Linked DNA regions of Homo sapiens. The protein of the gene in region 1 interacts with the protein of each later gene in a pairwise test. Each region holds a gene or a part of one and is shown in the gene's direction. Other genes may lie near its edges.

What was found.
Region 2: the proteins of GAP43 (region 1) and DRD4 interact in binary tests that used the Homo sapiens proteins (3 or more experiments, as listed by UniProt).

Annotation. Positions count from the first base shown.
Region 1 is NC_000003.12:115,616,435-115,628,266, forward strand, and holds the start of GAP43 (neuromodulin), read left to right. Parts: upstream 1-7,075; 5' UTR 7,076-7,255; coding exon 7,256-7,285; intron 7,286-11,832. UniProt on the Homo sapiens protein: This protein is associated with nerve growth. It is a major component of the motile 'growth cones' that form the tips of elongating axons. Plays a role in axonal and dendritic filopodia induction.
Region 2 is NC_000011.10:629,291-641,410, forward strand, and holds DRD4 (D(4) dopamine receptor), read left to right. Parts: upstream 1-7,978; 5' UTR 7,979-8,014; coding exon 8,015-8,299; intron 8,300-10,142; coding exon 10,143-10,255; intron 10,256-10,357; coding exon 10,358-11,016; intron 11,017-11,110; coding exon 11,111-11,313; 3' UTR 11,314-11,416; downstream 11,417-12,120. UniProt on the Homo sapiens protein: Dopamine receptor responsible for neuronal signaling in the mesolimbic system of the brain, an area of the brain that regulates emotion and complex behavior.

The DNA of each region.
Region 1 (11,832 bases):
AAAAATAGCAAAACCAATTAGAATGTTATTGCAATAATCTTGGCCAGAAATGCTGAAGGCCTGCGTTAGAGGAATTGAAGAAGAAAGACTTAAAAAAGAATATTTCAGAGATAAAGATGGGCAGAACATTTAGGAGGAAATGAAAACTGGTTGGTTTTGGCGTGGTGGTTGTCATGGAGAAGGAGGAGGTGATGCTGACTAGGGTGAATGATGAATCATGGGGCGCTCTACTAATACCGGGAATATAGTGAGAGGAACAAGCTGGCAGCCAAGAGGCCAAGTTGAGTTTTAGTTTGAGATGGGGGTATCTATGAGCCATCTGTGTGTATTCACAGCAAGTAGTTGAATACCTAGTTCTAAAGTTTCTATCTGAGAGAGATTTTATTTAATGTTGTACTGCTGGGTGCCAAGCCATGGAACAGGGCAAACGTGAGGAATCCACATTTAGGTGGTTTGGTGCTAACAGACCTTGAGAAATGTGTCCCAAACCAAGGTCATCTGAGCCCTGAATGCTGCTAAAAAGTATTTAAAAGTCCACAGGAGTATTGAAGATTTCCCAGTACATTCTTAGATATAATTATTGTTTCAGCTTGATTTGTATAGAGCAAGGATCTAATTTTGTGATTTCTGCTGCTGTTGCTTCTTCACCTGGTAGACACACATGAGGCATCTTCTACTGTAGAAAATGCCCCACTATGACCGAGAAGGTGTGGAAACCAAGTGCTGTAAGAATCTCACCACTGAAAAGTAAAGATTTTAATTTGGAGTTTTCTTTGTTTTGTTTTTTGTTTTGTTACTTTTTAGCTAAGAGGATGTTAGTTTAACGTCAGTGCACCTCCATGTTGTCCTACTTCAAATCTTGGATCTTGATGATATATTGTTTTCGGACCAGCTATTGTTATGGTTTTTGAATTTCAGTATTTCCATTCAGGATGATTAAAATTAACATCTTGAGACAGCACAATGTAGAACGTTCCCTTCTTCTGGAAAGAGATGTGTCATTCCTTGAATAGTTCTCACTATGGATACTTAAAAAATCACACCTGGTTTACTTACTTATGCAGGTATTTAAATAATGACAAATCAATTGAATGTATAAATGACATTTTAAGAGGATAAAGGCAAGGAACTTTCTCAAGCATTTTTTAGGCTATTGTTACCTCTAGTTTACCCCCTTGATGGCTTCTTTTCTTGATCTTGTCTTTAAGTTCCTGAAACCTGAACATTTCTCAAAGTTTATTCTTTGGTCCTCTGATTTCTATAGCACACTGTAGCTCACAAAATGAATTCCCTTTGATGGCTCCAACAATGACCCATAGAAAGACAATTCTGACTCTTGTTTCTTACCATCTGATCCTGTATTGCTCTTGAACACGTCAATGCTTTCATAAAATGAACACTTTCAAGCTTGACTCATCACCTTTCTCACAAAACCAGGTCCCTTTCTGACTTTTATAATTCTCATTTTCCAGGCTGTCTAGGTTCAATCTCTGTACAACTTTTGGTTCTTCCATTCTTCTCTTCCTCCTAGATATTCTCCTGTGAGATAAAAGAAACAAACTATGTAAAGCACAAAATATGTGGTATATGGAACATATTAGGTACTTAACAGGTGACAGTTCACTTTTTCTTCCATGATTCCTCGCAGATATATGTTTCTCTCACAGGACCCCAGTATATCTTTCTCACCATTTCATACTACACAATGTTACCACAGGCATTCTTTAAAATGTCCCCATCCACAAATCTTAGGTCTAATCCCTTGTAGTGGGGTGACTTGCGTCTCCCAAAAAGCTATGTCCAAGTCCTAATTCCTGGTACCACTGAATGTGAACTTTCTTGGAAAAAAAGTCTTTGCAGGTGTAATTTGTAATGAAGTTGAGGATCTCAAGATAAGATCATCTTGGATTTAGGGAGGGCCCTAAATTTGATGACAGATGTCTTTCTAAGAAAGAGAAAGATGGGGCCAGGCACAGTAGTTCATGCCTGTAATCCAAGCACTTTGAGAGGCTGAAGCGGGTGGATCATCTGAGGTCAGGAGTTTGAGACCAGCCTGGCCAAGATGGCAAAACTAGTCCTCTACTAAAAATACAAAAAATTAGCCAGCCGTGGTGGCACATGCCTGTAGTGTCAGCTACTCAGGAGGCTGGGGCAAGAAAATCACTTGAACCTGGGAGGCAGAAGTTGCAGTGAGCCAAGACCCCGCCATTGCACTCCAGCCCAAGTGACAGAGCAAGACTCTGCCTCAAAAAAAAAAAAAAAAAAAAAAGAATGAAGAAAACGGAAAGACACAGGGACACAGAATGGGGAAGGTCTTATGAAGACGAAGGCGGAGATTAGAGTGATGCTTCTTCAAAACAAGCAACACCAAAGATTGACCACAGCCACCAGAAGCTAAAAGAAAGATCTGGAATGTATCCTCCCTCAGAGCCTCCAGAGGGAACAAAACCCTGCTAACTGATTTCAGACTTCAGGTTTTCAGAAATGTGAGAAAGTAATATTCTGTTGTTTTAAGCTACCAAATTTGTTACAGCAGGCCTAGGAAACTAATATATCCCCTTAGCCTGATCTTGAAGATCCCTCTTAATCTGGCTTTAACCTACGTTTTCAACATTGTCTCTTACCAGTATCCTTTACAACTCCCCCCACTTCTGTATCCTGCCAGTCCCTTGATCATGCAGTGATTATTTGTGCATTTTGTCTTTTCTAATGTGATCCCTTTCCCTTTTTTAAAACTCCTATGTCTTCTCTATTCATTCTAATCCTAATCCTGAAACAAAAAGCCCATCTTAGTCTACAGTGGTTTATTTCCTATTTTGAATTCTTATCAAACACATTTGACATTGAATCATATTTTGTGCACACAGTGTTTGCTTTGCTTTTCATGTACGTGTGACTTTCCTTGAGGGAAGGATGATTTTTGCAACATAGAAACTATAGATTAAGTGAATGAAAACAGCAAGTATGGACAGAGAAAGCAGGTGTTTGGGTTGAATTATGTCCCCCTTATTTGCAAATTCATATGTTGGAACCTAACTCCCAGTACCTTAAGATGTGACTGTATTTGGAGATCTTTAATGTGACCCTTTACAGAGAAAATTAAGGTGAAATGAGGCCATAGGTGTGGGCCCTAATCCAATTTGATTGGTGTCCTTATGAAGGGGAGCTTACGATACACAGGGACAGAGAGCAGAGGTGCACATGCACACAGGGGGGCAACCATGCCATGTGCAGAGGCAGCAGAGGGCGGCCAGCTGCAAGTGCAGGAAAGAGGTTTGGAAAGGACCTTCCTTTAGGACTCTCAGAGGAAACCAACTCAGCCACCAGCCTGATCTTGGACTTCCAGACTTCAGAACTGTCAGAAATTACATTTCTGTTTTTTAGGCCACCCAGTCTGTGCTATTTTGTTACGGCAATGCTAGAAAACTAATGCAGCAAGTAAAAGGCTTAGATTAAGCACTGAAAAAATAAGAGAAGAGGCCGAGGTGAGAGGATTGCTTGAAGCCAGCAGTTTGAGACCAGTCTAGGCAACATGATGAGACCTTGTCTCTACAAAAATAAAAAATAAAAAAAAAATTAGCCAGGAGTGGTGACGTGTACTTGTAGTTCACAGAAGGCTTGTGTACTCAGAAGGCTGAGGTAGAAGATTGCTTGAGCCTAGGATTTCAAGGTTGTAGTGAGCTATGTTTGCACCACTGCACTCCAGCCTGGGCGACAAAGAGAAAACCTGTCTCAGAATAAAATAGAATAAAATAAAATATAAAATAAAATTTAAAAAAGGGAGAAATAAGACTAACATCTTTTCTACCTGAATTGATGACATTGTCTTCTCTCAAGTACCAGCCATAATCTTAAAATGGTAGACTATTTTACAGAGCCCTTAGTAAAGGTCAGTGACTTTTGGTTTTATTATACAAGCAGTATCACTTTAGTATAAAGTTCAAAGAGATCTGAGCGTGGAACTGGGATCTGGCCTCCACCACTCTTCATCTTTTTCTAGAATGTTATTATTGTCTAACCTATAGTCAAGAAGTTAATTGATAGTATTATGAGTTAATTTGCTAATCTAAAATTGTAAAAGGGTTAGCCATGGGGCTTAAGCCTATGCATTGTCTAGGATTAGTTATAAAGTACAAGGATTAGTGGGTCTATTGTGTATTTGCTTGGCAAAAATCGGGACATCGGTTATTTTATTTTTTATATATTTTTTGCAAAGCTCATATCAGTTTGTGCTTGTCTCTCCCTTATTCTTTTGCCATCCATAACCACCATTGCTTAGAGAAAAAGATGCATTAGAATTGATTCCATGTTATTCAAATTAAATTTGGAATCTTAGGCTTCCAAATTGGGAGGTAATTTTTAAAGGTTCATTGACAGAATGTAGTATGTCCAGAGGAAGGCATCCAAAATGGTGAGGACCTTACACACTGAGACACCTGAGGGTAGTTGAAGGAGCAGACATCTCATCAGAAATACATAGAGGGCTCTCTATTGCATGAAGATATCAGCTTATTCTCCATGGCTCTTGAAGTAAGAGTTGGGCCTAAAAGATGGATCTTGCTGATTTCATTTCAACATTGAATGCTGATTTCATTTCAACATTAAAACTTCCACTATGTAGTTTAATCTCTTAAGGACTAGAAGTAATGAAGAGTAGAGGCCTATTAAGTGGTGATTGATGTAGCCTAGTTGTTAAGAGACATAGAGTCCTAGCTTTACTACTTCTTAGTTCTGTGACTTAGTCAAGGCACTTAACTTCCCTTAGCTTTAGCATCCCCATCAAAATGGGATTACTACTTGTGCCTACCTCATTTTGAGTATTAGATAAAATAATGCATGTAAACTGATGAGGAAGCTGATTCTGAGCTGGGTGGTTTCACATATTTAGTCACAAAGTTCATCAATGCTTGTGCCCAGTTTTAAGCCCTAGCTTGTTTAACTTCATTATGCCACTTTGTTTCCAAGGTTCCTTCCCATATATAAAGGGGGAAAAATATAAATGGGATGGCTGAGGTGAGTACATCGAAAGGGAAAGGAATTAGTCCCACTCTTTAAGTTTGGCCACATAGTTAATGAAATGGTCTTATCAATGGAGTTATCCTGTTTAAACACCAAAAGGTGCAATTTCTTCTCCATCATCCCCAATCCCCACATTCTCTGCCTCCTCCCTTCATTGCTCTTTAGCCACTAGCAGGCTAGGTAGGGTGTTCCTAATCTGCAACCGGAATGTTTCTGGTAGGAGCCATTTCTCACCCACTCTTTGTCCTCTTTTATCACTTAAAATCACGGAAGGCTGTTCTGAAAGCGGCTGGGCTCCTTGTAACATTAAAAAATTATTAAACTCAGAAACTAATTCTGTTTTTTAATCATAAATATGAAAACTAGGAAGCAAACTGAGAAGAATGAAAGACCAAATCAGCGGATCTGAAGCAGGCCACTCTCAGGAAGACTCCTGAGGAATAATTAAGGCTAATTTTAAATATCACCTCCTGGGTATCATCATCACCATCGTTCCCAGGTACCTGTCTGAGATAGTCCATTTTGAAATAGATATACCTTAAATTATGTTAAAATGTACTAAGCACTTATTGAGCTCAGTGATCCTGAAATATGCCTAACAATAAGCTGCCTAGTTGCCACTTATTAGCTAGGTTTATGTCTAGGAGGTCTAGGAGGGACTATGAAGAATATGAGCTGTTTAATTAGGGGTACTTGTCATCACTAATGAACAACAAGAAATAGTTTGAAAACTTCTTTGAGATATTCACTTGCAAATGTCACCCGAATTTCAGAAAAGTACAGTCTCTGGAGTAAAGCTATTATACACTCAGAGAGACTGTTGTGCTTTGCATGCGTTATATCATTTAGTCCTCAAAACATGTTGTCAAGATTGGCATTATTATCTCCATTTTAAAGATGAGAAAATTAGGTGCAAAGAGCTTCAGTAACACACTCAAACTCATTCAACAATAAATAACTAAAAATTGTGCTATACACACTTTAAGAGTCACATGTTCCTCCCCCAAAATTATGAAAGGCCATAGAAGGAATTCAAGAAGTAGGCTTCATGACTTATCGTTTCTTCTCATCTCAGATGAATTCACTTTAATCTCTCATGCCCAAATTGTAAAATATCATTTTGATCACCGTCAATATTACACAGACCTGTTTGAATGTGCTCAGCTTTTTCAGTAAAATTAGAAGAAACCACAATTTACAAACAGGTATATGTGCATTAAGGAAAAAACAAAAAACTACCATGTGATTTTAGATATGGATGCCAATTCTTAAACATTGTTTATTATTTCTGAGCTCAAGTGCTTAGAATGTTTAAAATGCAATATATTTATGTGGATTTTTTTCCAGGATATTGGAACATATATAAAATATGCTTGTGCATATCTAAGCTTTGTATTTATTTCAGGTTATATGTATACTGAGAAGAATATATAAACAGTGTATGATATTTACATGTTATTTCATTTTTTGAGGGAAATTAACCTCCACAATTATTAACTATGCATAAAATGTAATGGCAGATATGACTTATATTGTATAGGACTGACTACAATTCCTCTTTAGAAATAGCTGTTCTTTGCTTTTATAATACTAGGAAAAGAGGAAAAGAGTTCTTAAAGAAATACAAGGATTCCTCAAGCCCCTCTTCCCTAAAACATGCTCTATCATATCTCCTGGATTGACTGGAATATCCTTCTCTGCCCCCACCCCATCACCCTCTCAATGCAGTGGAAAAGTCGGTGGGTAATTGGGTCCAGATTGGAGGTGTTTAAATATTCATGAGGCTGGCAGGGGACTGGGAGGGGGCGACTGTCTAGAATGGGGGTAGGGGCTGGGGGAAGTGATTAGTCACTGAAGGCTAGAGAACAATTCCGAGAAAGAGACGGAGAGAGAGGGAAGAAAAAGACAGATAGATAGATATTGGGGGGAAGGAGAAAAAAGGAGAAGAGAGGGAAGAGAGGACAGCGGAGAGAGAGCACCAGAGAGAGAGGGAGAGAGAGAGAGAGCGCTAGAGAGAGGGAGCGAGCATGTGCGATGAGCAATAGCTGTGGACCTTACAGTTGCTGCTAACTGCCCTGGTGTGTGTGAGGGAGAGAGAGGGAGGGAGGGAGAGAGAGCGCGCTAGCGCGAGAGAGCGAGTGAGCAAGCGAGCAGAAAAGAGGTGGAGAGGGGGGGAATAAGAAAGAGAGAGAAGGAAAGGAGAGAAGGCAGGAAGAAGGCAAGGGACGAGACAACCATGCTGTGCTGTATGAGAAGAACCAAACAGGTAGAGCTAAAGATTTTTTACTTCTTGCTGTTGTGAAATAACCCGAGTACAGTATTTCCCCGTAAAGGCAAACAATTTTTTTACTGCTTCTGCTCTGGCCGTGGTGCTCGCGCTTCCTTAGCATATGGTAACTGATGGTTGCATCCCAGCTTTTATTCTTTTCTGTCTTTCATGCTCTGGTTTTGGAATGCTGCTACTAATTAGGGTGAGGGTAGAAAAAACATGCCTGTTTGGCTAGAAATAATTTTTTTTTTTCTTATTAGTGAATGCTCAGCATTTGAGGTCTCTGGTCTTGAGGGTGTGGACGTAGAAAGGGGTGTGGGGGAGATGATGTGGGCTCTACCTACAAGATGGGGAGGCATTTCTTTATATTATTTGCAAAAAAGCAGGGTTGAGGAAATAATATTCAGAACTGAGTATTGCCTCTCTGTCATACAATTTTCTCACATGTGCTGCGGAAGATGCCTTATTTCGTGCATGCATGAGCTTCGAAGGGGCGCAGGTATTTATGGAAAAACGTGCAGGTCTTATTTATTTAGTATTTATTTTTCAATGAATGAATGAAACTGTGATTTGATAGATTTTTTTTTTTTTTAAGAGAAGCTAAGACAACTGGGGCTGGGGGAGAAATTGGCCATGCAGAAGGAGAAAATCCCCTTCCTAAGATCAGCAGCCGATTGTGCACCAGCTGGTCGGAGGAGAGGGTGGACCACGCCCCTAGGAGCTCCGATGGGATGGGAAAGACAGCCGGGTATTACCTGTTGGAAACCAGGTCTTTTCTCTTATCCCCTTCCCTTGCTTCTTTCCTGGGATTGTCAGTGACCAGAGACAGGCTAACATCCTGGATAATAAGTATGGTGACTCATTTTCATCAGGAAGAGGGACACATCCAAGATTAGCAAGAATCAGAGCCCCTCCTTCCCTCCCCCACTGCCCAGGTTTTACAGCCATTTCCAATTGCTCGCTTATTTCTTGAAAGACATTTTAGAAACTTGATTGGGGTGAGAGTGGGAAGGAATGACGAGTGTGGTATTCCGCAGCAACCGACCATGCCATGGCAGTCTCCAAAAGAAGCTTTCAAACATTTGTTGGAATGCATTTGAGTGATTTTGGCAAAGGTTAAAGAGAAAAATGGGTGTGGGATACGGGTGAGTGTGTGCGTATGCTTGACTGTGGTGGGGGTGGGGGTGTGGTGGGGGCAATCTTGGTCAAAGAAGCCCTTCGCAGACTGATTGCCTTAGGGGTGGGGTGCAAGAGATGGAATTTGGGTATAATTTCCAGTGCAGGTATTGGAAATTGGGCAATTTGTAATACACTCCCTGAATCCGAAGGGGGTGGAAGAGAGTGGAGAAGAAACAGCCTGCCAGCTTAGCACATTTAGCCAGCGCCCTGGAAGGAAGGGTGGGGAGTGAGGATGAAGGAGAAGGAGCAGGAAGAGGATGGGAGACTGAAGCAGAATGTCAGAGCAGTGGGAGTAGAGATTTGGCATAAATAAATAAATAAATAAATAAGCAGACATCCTGGATTGTGTGGGGCTATTTGGGGGAAAAAGTCGGATAGTGGGGGATTGAGTTGGGGGCGGTATTTGCAGCATCTCCTGAAACTGCCCTATGGTTACAGAGATTGATGCTTCCATTGGCTCATTTTATCAAACCAGGGCATTTTCTCTCTGTGTCCTCCTTCATTTTAATATATAAATGTAATAAATACAGGTGTCTGGGTTAAGAACACTGTCAAAGAAAAGTCCTGAGGTTATTTCACTGGTGAGCTGGGGAAATAACATTTAGGAAGGTGGAGCACTAAGTAAGCCAAAGCCATCCACTTAAAAAGCTTTAATTTTGGAAAGAAAAATATTCAGGTTCATAATTTGTTCCCACCCTATGTGTACATATGCAAGTATACATACATCTCCTTTAATAAAGGAAATCATGTATGATTTTTAGAAAAGGAATTAGGGCTAAAGGAATTCCCTTCCCAAAATGAAGACAGCTGCCTTCCCTGGGGCTCTATCTCACCAACAGCCCCAAGCATTCACTCTGATGTGCAAAGTGATGAAGCTGAAATTGTGTTTAGAGTTGTAGAAATTCGCATGTAAATGTATACAGCATCCACATACTTCATATGCTACAGTTGCATGTGTAAGTGGTTTCCACATGCCTCTCTGTGTTTTAGCATCATTTATATTCAAGAGAAAATTAAAGGTATAGAAATTGTCCTACTTTGCTCATGCATTTTATAAATGTGTACTTCTGTGTGAAATGGTCATGTCTCTTATAAACCACTGTTGTGTATCATTCACATTAGCCAGTATTTAGGATACCATTCAATCAGACTAAAGGAAATGGTGTATTCAGGGCGTGGGCTCACACTACACTGACTGGCATTTATGTAGCATGAGTACTTAAGTCTCACGCAGGTTGCCTGCTTGTGGATGAAATTCTGTATCATTTATGACAAAATCCAGTGGTGCCCATCCTTCTGCTGGCATCTATTCATCATCGTAGTACTTAACAGGGAATAAAACAAGGGCAAAAACCTGCAAAGGTCTAAGCTCTGCCACACCCATAAAATCCAGCAGAAACGTGGGAGGGGGGCTGAAGGGCTTGCACTTCCTTCCTCTTCCACTTGAGCGGCATAAAGAAGCAACCTTGGATTTCTAAGTTGGAATACATTGCCAGTGGGTGAGAAGAAAGCATAAATGATCTCTATTAGCCATTAGTTATCACTATAGATTATTATAGCAGGAAGAAGAGAATGAGAGTGGGGTAGAGATGAGAATATGGTAAAGGAGTGGGCAAAGGAGGAATAAAATAAAATAATCCCTAATATTGTATTGCCTTATGATTTTCAAATATCTTGGGGCTTACTTTAAATAGCTTAATTGCCATGTGTATTGCAGATGATTAAAAACTTGGCAAGGTGTGATTTATGTCTACAAAGCAAGAAAACTATGAGGTGTTTCTTTTGTTGAAAAATAATGACTTTAGTTTGTAATTGAAGTGTAAAGAATTTCATGCAAGCAAGTAGTCCCTCTACTCCCCAGCCCCCCATCCATGCCAATATCTGCTTTTTTCCTCATGCAACAAATAAATCTTATCTCTGAGAGTGTGATCTGTGGTTTAAAATTCCGACCTCTCTGCCTTTCCTTGCAGTGTTGGGAAGGTGTGGAAGGATGCTGCCTTGCTGCTTGGTGCAGGCGATTCTTCCTAGTGATAAATTGGATTCCTCCCAAATCTCTCTGAGCCACACCCAGTGTCACTCAGGGACTTAGTGAATTAATTAAGCTGAGCCATTTTACTTAATATAATTGAAGCTTCTCGTTCTTTTTTTTTTTTTTAATAGTGATTTTCACCACAGGTTTCCAAATTTAAACAGAAAAAATATTTGAAGGGCATTTTCTTTCTTTTTTCTTTCTTTTTTTTTTTTTTTTGCCAAATTATCTGGACTTGCAGAGAACCTTAGAAAATTCATGGTGAGTCTAGAAAGTGTTCATTTCTGGTGACTCTATAATTCCTTCTAACCCATGCCAGGGCGCATACACAATGAGCCCTGATCTCTCCTGCTGACAGAGTCTGTGTAACTCTCTTCCCCACCCCCTCCCCTACCAACCCATGCTGAGGCAACTGGAATAAGAAAATGCAGAGTTAATTTTCTTTCTTGCTGAGCTGGCAAAACTACAGAAACCTCCTTTGATGTTTCAAGCTAAAGGGCAGTACTCCTGTTCACCGAGAGGGAGAGTGGCTTGGGGTCTCCTTTGCCTCTGTCATAGTGAAATTGCCAGTGTTATTCCTGGGGCTGAATTAATCCACAGACTTCAGAATTTTACCTGGCCCCATAAGGAAGGGTACTGGTGTTCTTTCAGGCAAGAATAGAGCATATATATTAACCAATCGTATTGATAAAGTAAGACAAGTCTTCCTCTATTAATAGTTCAAAGAATGCACATAACCAGGTCATCTCAAGAGAAGGTATAGCAGCATTTAACTATTCACTTCCCTATTAGTATTAATAAAGGCATTAGGGCAACCAAGCAGTGGCTGTTGCAAACCAAAGAAGTGATTTCATACAGGAATTCTCCCTTTTCAATTTGTGAAGTGTGGTCAGGTGGCTTTTGTACCTTTGTAATTAAATCTTCATAACATTTTCAGAAGTGTTGGGAAGAATATTATACTGTGAGTCCTTAGTGGAGGCCACTTACTGACTGTGAGCTTTAATAAACCACATCACCTTGGGTTTCAGTTTCCTTCTGTAGAATGAAGAGTAAAAACCAAAAACCAGACACAAATGAACACTTTGCTTACCTTAAGGATTTTTGTAGGGCTTAAACATACTTGATGTGAAAATAAAGATCAATATAAGAAATTTTTATTCTCCCCAAGTTTTGCAATTTGAGGCTTGTCTTAGAGGCCCCAGTTTTGCAGGATGATCTAGTGCCTGCTGTGTCTACCTTTCCCTGTTAGAGATGAGTTCCTTCTAGTCTTAGTTGAGCCTTCTGCTTGTGCTCTTGCTCCTCCCCCCGTGTTTTCCCCAGAGCCCCAGTCCCTCAT
Region 2 (12,120 bases), on another chromosome or scaffold:
CCAAAGCACTGGGATTACAGGCGTGAGCCACAGCGCCCGGCCTCACTTTCTCTGCACACTGTCAACATCCCTGCAGTCGCTATTTTTAACCTTCAGCCATTCTCTCTGCGGCAACACCTCCTTGTGGTCTTAGTTGCATTTCCCCAGTGGCGGGTGATTCCGAACCTCTTTCCAGGTGCTTGTTTCCATTTGCATGTTGTCGTGGGTTAAATGTATCTTCACATCTCTTGCCCGTTTTTAAATTGTTCTCTACTGCTGAGTTTTGTTTTTTTTTTTATTGTGGGAAAACATGCATAACATGAAACTTACCATTTTAGCCATTTTAAAGTATGAAGTGATACTTAGTACGGTCACGGAATTATACAACCAGCACCGCTGTTTAGTTCCAGAACTTTTTACTCCCCAGATGGAAAATCTCAAATCCATAAAGCATTTACCTCCCCTTCCCCCATCCCTTCAGCTCCTGAGTAACAATGAATTTACTTTCTGTCTCTGTGGATCTGCCTGTTCTGGGTATTTCATACCAATAAAATCCTAAAAGCTGGGCATGGTGGTACATGCCTGTGGTCTCGGCTACTTGAGACGGTGAGGCAGGAGGATGGTTTGAGGCCAGGAGTTCGAGACCAGCCTGGGAAACATAGCAAGACCCTGGTCACTATTTTTATTTATTTATTTATTTTTATTTATTTGTTTTGAGATGGAGTTTCACTCTTGTTGCCCAGACTGGAGTGCAATGGCGCGATCTTGGCCCACTGCAACTTCCGCCTTCTGGGTTCAAGCAATTCTCCTGCCTCAGCCTCTGGAGTTGCTGGGATTACAGCACCACCATGCCCAGCTAATTGTGTACTTTTCATGGAGGCAGGGTTTTGCCATATTGGTCAGGCTGGTCTTGAACTCCTGACCTCAGGTGATCCGCCCGCCTCAGCCTCCCAAAGTGCTGGGATTACACGCAGGAGCCACCGCGCCTGGCCCCAGAATTTCATTCATTTTAATGGAAAAATCACACTGCATTTGGTTCATCCATTCACCTGCTGAGGACGTTTGGTTTATTTCTACCTTGTATATATTGTGTTTGTTTGTCTGCTTGAGACAGAATCTCGTTCTGTTGCCCAGGCTGGAGTGCAGTATATGATCTCCGCTCACTGCAACCTCCGCCTACCAGGTTTAAGTGATTCCCCTGCCTCAGCCTCCTAAGTAGTGGGACTACAGGCATGCACCACCACACCCCCTAATTTTTGTATTTTTAAAAAATATTTATTTATTTATTTACTTTAGAGACGGACTCTCACTCTGTCACCCAGGCTGGAGTGCACTGACCTGATCTCAGCTCACTGCAACCTCCGCCTCCCGGGTTCAAGCTATTCTCCTGCCTCAGCCTCCCAAGTAGCTGGGATTACAGGCACCTGCCACGCCCGGCTAATTTTTGTATTTTTAGTAGAGACGGGGTTTAACCCTGTTGGCCAGGCTGGTCTCCAACTCCAGGTCTCAGGTGATCCACCCGCCTCGGCCTCCCAAAGTGCTAGGGTTACAGGCATGAGCCACTGTGCCCGGCCAGTACTTTGTGTATTTTCAGTGGAGATGGGGTTTCACCATGTTGGCCAGGCTGGTCTTGAACTTCTGGCCTCAAGCAATCTGCCCACCTCGGTCTCCCAAAGTGCTGAGATTACAGGCGTGAGCCACCATGCCCGGCCCCTTTTGTATATTGTGAATAGTGCCGCTGTGAACATTTACATACAAGCTTTTATTTGAACACCTGTCTTCACTTCTTTTGGGTATGTAACATACCCACTGAGTCATATGGCAACTCTACGTGAAACTTGTTGAGGAACTGCTGGACTTCTTCTCACAGTGACCATTTTATATTCCCAAAAGCAGTGAATGTCTCCTCATCCTTAACACTTGGTATTTTTATTTATTTATTTATTTATTTATTTACTACCATGGCCATCCTAATGGATATGGAATGGTATCTTACTGTGGTTTTGATTTGCATTTCCCCAGTGACTAATGAGGTTGAGCATCTTTTCAAGTGCTTTGTGGCCATTTGTGTGTGACATATGTATATTTTTTGTTTGTTTGTTTGTTTTGGGGACGGAGTCTCGCTCTGTCACCCAGACTGGAGTGCAATGGTGCGATCTCGGCTCATTGCAACCTCCACCTCCCAGGTTCAGGCGATTCTCCTGCCTCAGCCTCCTGAGTAGCTGGGACTACAGGTGCCCGCCACCATGCCTGGCTAATTTTTTTGTATTTTTAGTAAAGACGGGGTTTCACCATGTTAGCCAGGATGGTCTCCATCTCCTGACCTCATGATCCGCCCACCTCGGCCTCCCAAAGTGCTGGGATTACAGATGTGAGGCACCGTGCCCAGCCATATTTTTTTTAAGACAGAGTCTCGCACTGTTGCCCAGGCTGGAGTGCAGTGGCGTGTTCTTGGCTCACTGTAACCTCTGCCTCCCGGGATCAAGCGATTGTCCCACCTCCGCCTCCCAAGTAGCTGGGATTATGGGCGCCCGCCAGCATACCCAGCTAATTTTTGTATTTGTAGTAGAGACGGGGTTTCACCATGTTGGCCAGACTGTTCTCGAACTCCTGACCTCAAGGGATCCGCCTGCCTCGGCCTCCCAAAGTGCTGGGATTACAGGCGTGAGCCACTGAACCCGGCCATTTGGGTATCTTCTTTGAAGAAATGTCTATTCAAGTCCTTTACTCATTTTCATTATTTATTTTATTTTGAGACAGGGTCTCACTTTGTTGCCCAGCTTGGAATATGTTGGCTCAATCACAGCTCACTGCGGCCTCAACCTCCTGGACTCAAAGGATCCTCCCACCTCAGATTCCCAAAAAGCTGTGACTATAGGCTCACGCCACCACACCCAGCTAATGTTTGTATTTTTAGTAGAGATGGGGTGTCTTTCTTTTTTTTTTTTTTTTGAGACAGAGTCTTGGTCTGTTGCCCAGGCTGGAGTGCAGTGGCACGATCTTGGCTCACTGCAAGCCCCGCCTCCCAGGGTCACGCCATTCTCCTGCCTCAGCCTCCTGAGTAGCTGGGACTACAGGTGCCCGCCACCACGCCCGGCTAATTTTTTGTAATTTTAGTAGAGACGGGGTTTCACCATGTTAGCCAGGATGGTCTCGATCTCCTGACCTTGAGATCCGCCCGCCTCAGCCTCCCAAAGTGCTGGGATTACAGGCTTGAGCCACCAAGCCTGGCCTGTTGTGGAGGATCTTCTATACATAAGACCATGTCATCTGCAAGTAGAAATAGTTTTCTTTTCCAATTTTGGATACCTTTAATTTCTTTTTCTTGAGTAATGCTCTTGCTAGAATGTCCAGAACAATGTTGAACAGAAGCAGCAGCAGTGGGCATCCTTGTCTCTTTCAAAGGCTTTTTGTTTCTCACCATTGAGTATGATGTTAGCTGTGTTTGTATTTTGTTTGTTTGTTTGAGACAGTCCCCCTCTGTCATTCAGGGTGGAGTGCAGTGGTGCGATCTCGTCTCACTGCAGCCTCCACCTCCTGGATTCACGTAATTCTCGTGTCTCAGCCTCCTGAGTAGCTGGGACTGTAGGCGTGCGCCACCATGCCCAGCTAATTTTAATTTTTGTATTTTTAGTGGAGATGGGATTTCAACATGTTGGGCATCTGGTCTTGAACTCCTGATCTCAAGTGATCCACCCGCCTCGGCCTTCCGAAGTGCTGGGATTACAGGCATGAGTCACGGCGCCCGGCCTGATGAAGTTTGTTTCTATTCCTAGTTTATTGAGTCTTATTATCATGAAAGGGTTTTGAATTTTATGAAATGGTTTTTTCTGCATCAGTTGGGATGATCGCGTGGGTTTTTCTTCATTCTGTTAATGTGGTGTATGACATTGAATTTCGTCTGTTCGTTCACCCTTGCATTCCTGGGATAAATCCCACTGGGTTATGGTACATAATCCTTTTAAAAATGCTGTTTTTCGGCCAGGCACTGGCTCACGCCTGTAACCCCAGCACTTTGGGAGGCCAAAGTGGGCGGATCATGAGGTCAGGAGTTTGAGACCAGTCTGGCCAACAGAGTGAAACCCTGTCTCTACTAAAAATACCAAAATTAGCTGGGCATGGTGGCACGTGCCTGTAGTCCCAGCTGTTCAGGAGGCTGAGGCAGGAGAATAGCGTGAACCCGGGAGGCAGAGGTTGTGGTGAGCCGAGATCACACCACTGCACTCCAGCCTGGGTGACAGAGTGAGACTCCATCTCAAAAAAAAAAAAAAAATGCTGCTTTTCTGGCAGGCAGCACTTTAAAAGGGACTGTGTTTGCTCATATTTTTTCGAGAACTTTTGCATCTATATTCATAAAGGATACTCATTTGGAATTTTCTTTTTGTGATATCATTACTGTTGAGTTTTGAGAATTATTAATCTTTTTTGTATACAAGCCATTTGCTGGATATATGATTGCTAATTTTTAAAAAAAATTTGTTTCTTTTTTAATTTTAATTTATTATTTATTTATTTATTTATTTATTTATTTATTTATTTTGAGACGGAGTCTCGCTCTGTCGCCCACGCTGGAGTGCAGTGGTGCGATCTTGGCTCACTGCAAGCTCTGCCTCCCGGGTTCACGCCATTCCCTTGCCTCAGCCTCCCGAGTAGCTGGGACTACAGGTGCCCGCCACCACGCCTGGCTAATTTTTTGTATTTTTAGTAGAGACAGGGTTTCACTGTGTTAGCCAGGATGGTCTCGATTTCCTGACTTCGTGATCTGCCTGCCTCGGCCTCCCAAAGTGCTGGGATTACAGGCATGAGCCACCTCGCCCAGCCTATTTATTTATTTTTTGACACAGAGTCTTGCTCTGTTTCCCAGGCCAGAGTGCAATGACGTGATCTCCGCTCACCGCAACCTCTGCCTCCTGGGTTCAAGTGATTCTCCTTCCTCAGCCTGCCAAGCAGCTGGGATTACAGGTGCACACCACCACGCCCGGCTTTTTTTTTTTGAGACGGAGTCTTGCTCTGTCACCCAGGCTGGAGCGCAGTGGCACAATCTTGGCTCACTGCAATCTCCGCCTCCCGGGTTCATGCCATTCTCCTGCCTCAGCCTCCTCAGTAGCTGGGATTACAGGTGCCCGCCACCACGCCCGGCTGATTTTTTTGTATTTTTTAGTAGAGACAGGGTTTCACCGTGTTAGCCAGGATGGTCTCGATCTCCTGACCCTGTGATCTGCCTGCCTCGGCCTCCCAAAGTGCTGGGATTACAGGCGTGAGTCACCACGCCTGGCCAATTATTTGTATTTTTAGTAGAGATGGGGTTTCACTATGTTGGCCAGGCTGGTCTTGAACTCCTGACCTGGTGATCCACCTGCCTCGGCCTCCCAACGTGCTGGGATTACAGGTGTGAGCCACTGCGCCTGGCGTAGACAACCCAATTTTTAACAAAAGCAAAGATTTTTAACAGGCACATTCCAGAAGAGGGCATGCTGACAGTTAACAGGCACATGGGAAAAGTGGTCAAACATGAGTAGCCATCAGGAAAATCAACGACGTCCTACTACACTAAAATGGAAGAAACATTGCCAGACGTGGCCATTTGCAAATGTCGTTTCCTGGTCTGTGTCTTTTGATTCTCCTGACAGCATATTTGAGTTAATTTTTTAATGTGTAAGGTATGAGTGGAGGTCCTCATTAAAAATTGTTTAGGCTGGCTGTATGGCTCATGCCTGTAATCACAGCACTTTGAGAGGCTGAAGTGGGAGGATCATTTGAGCCCAGGAGTTTGAGACCGGCTGGGCTAACATGGCGAGACCCCGTCTCTACAAAAAATAAGAAAATTAGCTGGGTGTGGCACCACGCATCTGTAGTCTCAGTTGTACAGGAGGCTGAGGCCAGAGGATCACTTGAGCCCAGGAGATTGAGGCTGCAGTGAGCCATGATTGCAGTAAGATGTGATCACATCCAGTTACATTTGATTTTCAGATAAACAACAGAAGTTTAGTGGAGGCTGGGGGCAGTGGCTCACAGCTGTAATCCCAGCACTTTAGGAAGCTGAGGCAGGTGGATCACCTGAGGTCAGGAGTTCGAGACCAGCCTGGCCAATATGATGAAACCGTGTCTCTACTAAAAATACAAAAAAATTAGCCGGGCGTGGTGGCGGGCGCCTATAATCCCAGCTACTCAGAAGGCTGAGGCAGGAGAATCGCTTGAACCCGGGAGACGGAGGTTGCAGTGAGCCAAGATTGTGCTGCTGCACTCCAGCCTGGGTGATAAGAGTGAAACTCCATCTCAAAAAAAAAAAAAAAAAAAAAACAAATTGGGGTTGTCTGTCTTTTCTCATTGTTTCCATTGTTTCTGGATCTGTGTGTCAGAGATGTGTGCTGCACACATCCTTTCTCCGCCTAGCTTGGTTTTCACTCTTGGTGGTCGCAGACATCTTGGGGGCTACTTGAAGGAACTCTAAGCCGACCAGAGGCTGGGCTGGACTCGCCGTTTGGCGCCCAGCCGGAGACCCCAGGGCCACCCTCCCCGGTTCCATCCTGGGAGAGAAGAAACTTCCACTGTCCCAGTCTCTCCTGTGGTGACTTCTTTTGCTCAAGGGTTCACAAGGGCAGCAGACTGATCTGCACAAGAGGGACTGAGCCTGGCTGCGGCCGCACCTGATGCCTGTGCACACCTGTCCCTGGTGGTCTCTCCTGTGGTGACTTCTTTTGCTCAAGGGTTCACAAGGGCAGCAGACTGATCTGCACAAGAGGGACTGAGCCTGGCTGCGGCCGCACCTGATGCCTGTGCACACCTGTCCCTGGTGCAGGCCCTTCCCCCGCAGCCCCGTGACCTTGTCCTGTGAGGCTCACGGTGCCTGCTCCTTCTCAGAGTCCTCATTTCTCCCTTTAACGCACGCCCTGTCAGCGCCTCCGTCTAGCCCGTGTCCTCCAGACCTTCGAGGTCAGGGGCCTCAATTCCTGGCACAGCCCCTCCACTCCAGGCCTCCCAGAAACAGACTAGAGCATCAGGATGTGCGCCGCCTGGGGTCCCACAGAGTGGTGCCCCCTTTTAGTGTCTTCTAGGCCCCTTAGTGACAGACTACAGAAAATACCTCTCAGGTCACAGGTCACCCCTCTTTGGTGAAGAGTCCATAGAATTCTCTGCTGCGCTTTGCAAGCACTTTCTCTTCTGCACGTTTGGAACCTACCCCGGCCTGTCGTGTCTTTCTCCTGGCCTCCTCGCGAGCCGAACCTACTGTCCGGTCCCGGGACCCCCTGCCCAGGGTCAGAGGGGCGCCTACCTAGCTCACGGTCTTGGGCCGGAGGGAATGGAGGAGGGAGCGGGGTCGACCGCTCAGCTGTCCGCCCAGTTTCGGAGGCGGCCACGCGAGGATCAACTGTGCAACGGGTGGGGCCGCGGCTGACCGTGGTGGTCGCGGGGGCTGAGGGCCAGAGGCTGCGGGGGGGGGGCGGCGGGATGAGCTAGGCGTCGGCGGTTGAGTCGGGCGCGGAGTCGGGGGCAGGGGGAGCGGGCGTGGAGGGTGCGCACGAGGTCGAGGCGAGTCCGCGGGGGAGGCGGGCAGAGCCTGAGCTCAGGTCTTTCTGCGTCTGGCGGAACGGGCCTGGGAGGGAGGTTTTGCCAGATACCAGGTGGACTAGGGTGAGCGCCCGAGGGCCGGGACGCACGCACGGGCCGGGTAGGATGGCGCTGGCGTCGATGCCCGCGCGCTTCAGGGCCTGGTCTGGCCGCCCCTCCATCCTTGTCGGTTTCTCGGGTCGCGGACCCCGCGCGGCGCCGGGCGATGCTGGCCTGCCCGTGGCCACCACCTCGCTTCATTCCCGTCTCTTTGGGCCGCCGCATTCGTCCACGTGCCCGTCTCTCCCTGCGCAAAATTCCAAGATGAGCAAATACTGGGCTCACGGTGGAGCGCCGCGGGGGCCCCCCTGAGCCGGGGCGGGTCGGGGGCGGGACCAGGGTCCGGCCGGGGCGTGCCCGAGGGGAGGGACTCCCCGGCTTGCGACCCGGCGTTGTCCGCGGTGCTCAGCGCCCGCCCGGGCGCGCCATGGGGAACCGCAGCACCGCGGACGCGGACGGGCTGCTGGCTGGGCGCGGGCCGGCCGCGGGGGCATCTGCGGGGGCATCTGCGGGGCTGGCTGGGCAGGGCGCGGCGGCGCTGGTGGGGGGCGTGCTGCTCATCGGCGCGGTGCTCGCGGGGAACTCGCTCGTGTGCGTGAGCGTGGCCACCGAGCGCGCCCTGCAGACGCCCACCAACTCCTTCATCGTGAGCCTGGCGGCCGCCGACCTCCTCCTCGCTCTCCTGGTGCTGCCGCTCTTCGTCTACTCCGAGGTGAGCCGCGTCCGGCCGCACGAGCATCCTCACCTGCTCCTCGGTTCCCCGTCCCTGTCCCTACGGAGGACCCGGCGCGACCCGGCCCCTTTCTGGTGCGGAGCTTCCAGCTGGGGCGGCGGCAGGGGCGCTGCGCCTTGTCCCTCGGCGATACACCCACCGCCGCCACCTCGCGACCTTCCACCCGCTGCGCTGTCTGTCCCCCGACCCTCGTTCCTCTTCTCCTTCCCCGTCTGTCTTGGCGTCTGTTATCCAGGAGATGCCCGTCCTTCTATCCAGGGACCCCGGAAACAGGCGACTTTGTCAAGCCCAGTCCCCTCCGTAGCTGGATTTCACCTCCAGGGCAGCCAGCTGGACAGACAGGCAGATGCAGGCTCAGCCCCCTGGCTGCCGTGGGACACACACACACACACACTGCCACAGCCACTGCCCACCACACACACCTAGTGCAGATGCTGGCACACCCCCAGAAGGAGGCTCACAGCTCGCAGGGGAGACCTGGGCTGGACAAAACCCAGGGGAGGGGAGGGTGTGTGGGGACCAGGCCCCTGCTGAGAACCCTGGGGGGAAGCCTGAGGGGGAATTGGGGGATGGAGCCCACACTCCACACCAGGTCTGGCCCTCGAGTGGGTCGGCCTTGGTGCCAGCCCCTCTGCGGCCAGAGAAAAGCAGCTTAGGGCTGAGCTGGAGACGCGGTGTCCCCGACTGTGGGGGAGGGGGACTCGAGGTTTCCCCTTGATGGACACAGTGAATCCAGGCGGCTGGGGCAGAGACCAGCAGCACGGGACACGCGTGACCTGTGCTCCTTTCGAGCCGCAGACGTCACAGTGACGACGTTTAAGCTCCTAATCTCCCCAAATCGGCGGGAAGGATTAGAGGGGCTGCCTGCTCCTTTGCCCTTGGAGAGAGTCACTCCACGTGGAGTCCTACGCTGGGCACTGGGCACGGTCTTCATATTTTTAATTATAATTTATCTTCAAGACAATTATGATGTGGATACTATCATCACCCTTGTCTTACAGATGAAGAAACAGAAATGAATTAACGTGCCCGAGTCTCCCACAGAGAACTTAGCCAACAGAGCAGCCAGCTTCGCTTCTAGGCCCAGCGGGGACCCTGCCTACCCCAGGCTGGGGAGGGGCTCCCTTTGAGCCCGATGATATCAGGCCCGCCCCCAGGGAATTCCCCAGGCCGTTCTCATGTTTGTAACAAAAGGGAGACCAAGGCCAGAAGCCGTGATTCACGCCTGTAATCCCAGGACTTTGGGAGGCAAAGGCAGGAGGATAGTTTGAGACCAGCCTGGGAAACATACCAGGCCTGGTCTCTACAAAAAATTTTAAAATATCAGCCGGGGGTGGTGGCTGCGGCTGTTGTCCCAGCTATTCGGGGGAGCTGAGGCGGCAGAATCGCTTAAACCTGGGAGGCGGAGGTTGCAGTGAGTTGAGATCTCACCACTGCACTCCAGCCTGGGCAACAAGAGCGAAACTCCGTCTCAAAAAACAAAAAGAAAAACAAATCAGCCGGGGGTGGTGGCGCGCGGCTGTAATCCCAGCTACTCTGGAGACTGAGGTGGGAGGATCGCTTGAGCTCAGGAATTCCAGGCTACAGTGAGCCATGATGGAGCCACAGCACTCCAGCCGCGGTGACACAGCGAGACCCTAACTCAAAACAAAGGGAGATCTGCGTGGGGAAGGGGTGTTTCCCTGCCCGGTCCTCTGGCCTCTGGCTCACAGCCGGGCCCCCTTCTCCGTATTCAGCCCTGGAACTACCCATAAGAGTGGGGGCGGGTCACAAGGGCCCGCGGTGGCTGGGAAACCTCAGGGCCTGTGGTGTCGCCGCGCAGGTCCAGGGTGGCGCGTGGCTGCTGAGCCCCCGCCTGTGCGACGCCCTCATGGCCATGGACGTCATGCTGTGCACCGCCTCCATCTTCAACCTGTGCGCCATCAGCGTGGACAGGTGCGCCGCCCTCCCCGCCCGCGCCCCGGCGCCCCCGCGCCCCGCCCGCCGCCCTCACCGCGGCCTGTGCGCTGTCCGGCGCCCCCTCGGCGCTCCCCGCAGGTTCGTGGCCGTGGCCGTGCCGCTGCGCTACAACCGGCAGGGTGGGAGCCGCCGGCAGCTGCTGCTCATCGGCGCCACGTGGCTGCTGTCCGCGGCGGTGGCGGCGCCCGTACTGTGCGGCCTCAACGACGTGCGCGGCCGCGACCCCGCCGTGTGCCGCCTGGAGGACCGCGACTACGTGGTCTACTCGTCCGTGTGCTCCTTCTTCCTACCCTGCCCGCTCATGCTGCTGCTCTACTGGGCCACGTTCCGCGGCCTGCAGCGCTGGGAGGTGGCACGTCGCGCCAAGCTGCACGGCCGCGCGCCCCGCCGACCCAGCGGCCCTGGCCCGCCTTCCCCCACGCCACCCGCGCCCCGCCTCCCCCAGGACCCCTGCGGCCCCGACTGTGCGCCCCCCGCGCCCGGCCTTCCCCGGGGTCCCTGCGGCCCCGACTGTGCGCCCGCCGCGCCCAGCCTCCCCCAGGACCCCTGCGGCCCCGACTGTGCGCCCCCCGCGCCCGGCCTCCCCCCGGACCCCTGCGGCTCCAACTGTGCTCCCCCCGACGCCGTCAGAGCCGCCGCGCTCCCACCCCAGACTCCACCGCAGACCCGCAGGAGGCGGCGTGCCAAGATCACCGGCCGGGAGCGCAAGGCCATGAGGGTCCTGCCGGTGGTGGTCGGTGGGTTCCTGTCCTGAGGGGCGGGGAGGAGAGGAGGGGGGGGGTACGAGGCCGGCTGGGCGGGGGGCGCTAACGCGGCTCTCGGCGCCCCCAGGGGCCTTCCTGCTGTGCTGGACGCCCTTCTTCGTGGTGCACATCACGCAGGCGCTGTGTCCTGCCTGCTCCGTGCCCCCGCGGCTGGTCAGCGCCGTCACCTGGCTGGGCTACGTCAACAGCGCCCTCAACCCCGTCATCTACACTGTCTTCAACGCCGAGTTCCGCAACGTCTTCCGCAAGGCCCTGCGTGCCTGCTGCTGAGCCGGGCACCCCCGGACGCCCCCCGGCCTGATGGCCAGGCCTCAGGGACCAAGGAGATGGGGAGGGCGCTTTTGTACGTTAATTAAACAAATTCCTTCCCAAACTCAGCTGTGAAGGCTCCTGGGGGCTGATGGGGAGTGGGGAAGAGGGGTTTCTGCCTCAGTGGCCCCAGGCCCCCCAGCCAGTTAACCTCTTTCTCCCCGCCAAGGAAGCCCACAGAGCAGACCCCACCAAGCCGGCCGCCTGCTCAGGGTGAGGGGGGAAGGGGCCCCCGAGAGCCACTCAGTTCCGCAGCGCTGGGGCCCAGCTTCCCCTCTCTGCAGGGGAGAGGAAGCAGCACCCAGCAGGGCAAGGTGTCTCCTGGGGAAGCCCAGTTCCGATGGGAAGAAACAAATGGGGAGAGGCGGGGTGGGGGGCTGTCAGCCGCCAGGCCCTGCCCGGGCCAACTCCCACCTCTGAGAACCAGGCACAGGGGGCTCCAGGCTCATGCTGCCCCAGCAGACCCCGGCAGGGGAGCCCAACCTGTCATTTTAGAAGCTGCCTTGAGGCCAGAGCCTAGCTTCCTGCCAGTCCCTGGCCAGAGGATGCCCCAAGCCCCACAGCAAGGGGCCTGTGGTGATGGGTGGGGCCCCACCAAGTGGCTTCCCTGGAGGGAGCTCCGTGCTCAGTCACCCCTGGTGCCCAGCCAACCTCTGCCCAGCGTCCACCAATGTGGCTGGGCCAAGGGGTGGGAGCAGGGAGGCGGCAGCGGGGCCAGGGGCTGGGCAGAGCGACCCAAGCTGCCTGTCTGCACCCTGGCTCCATCAA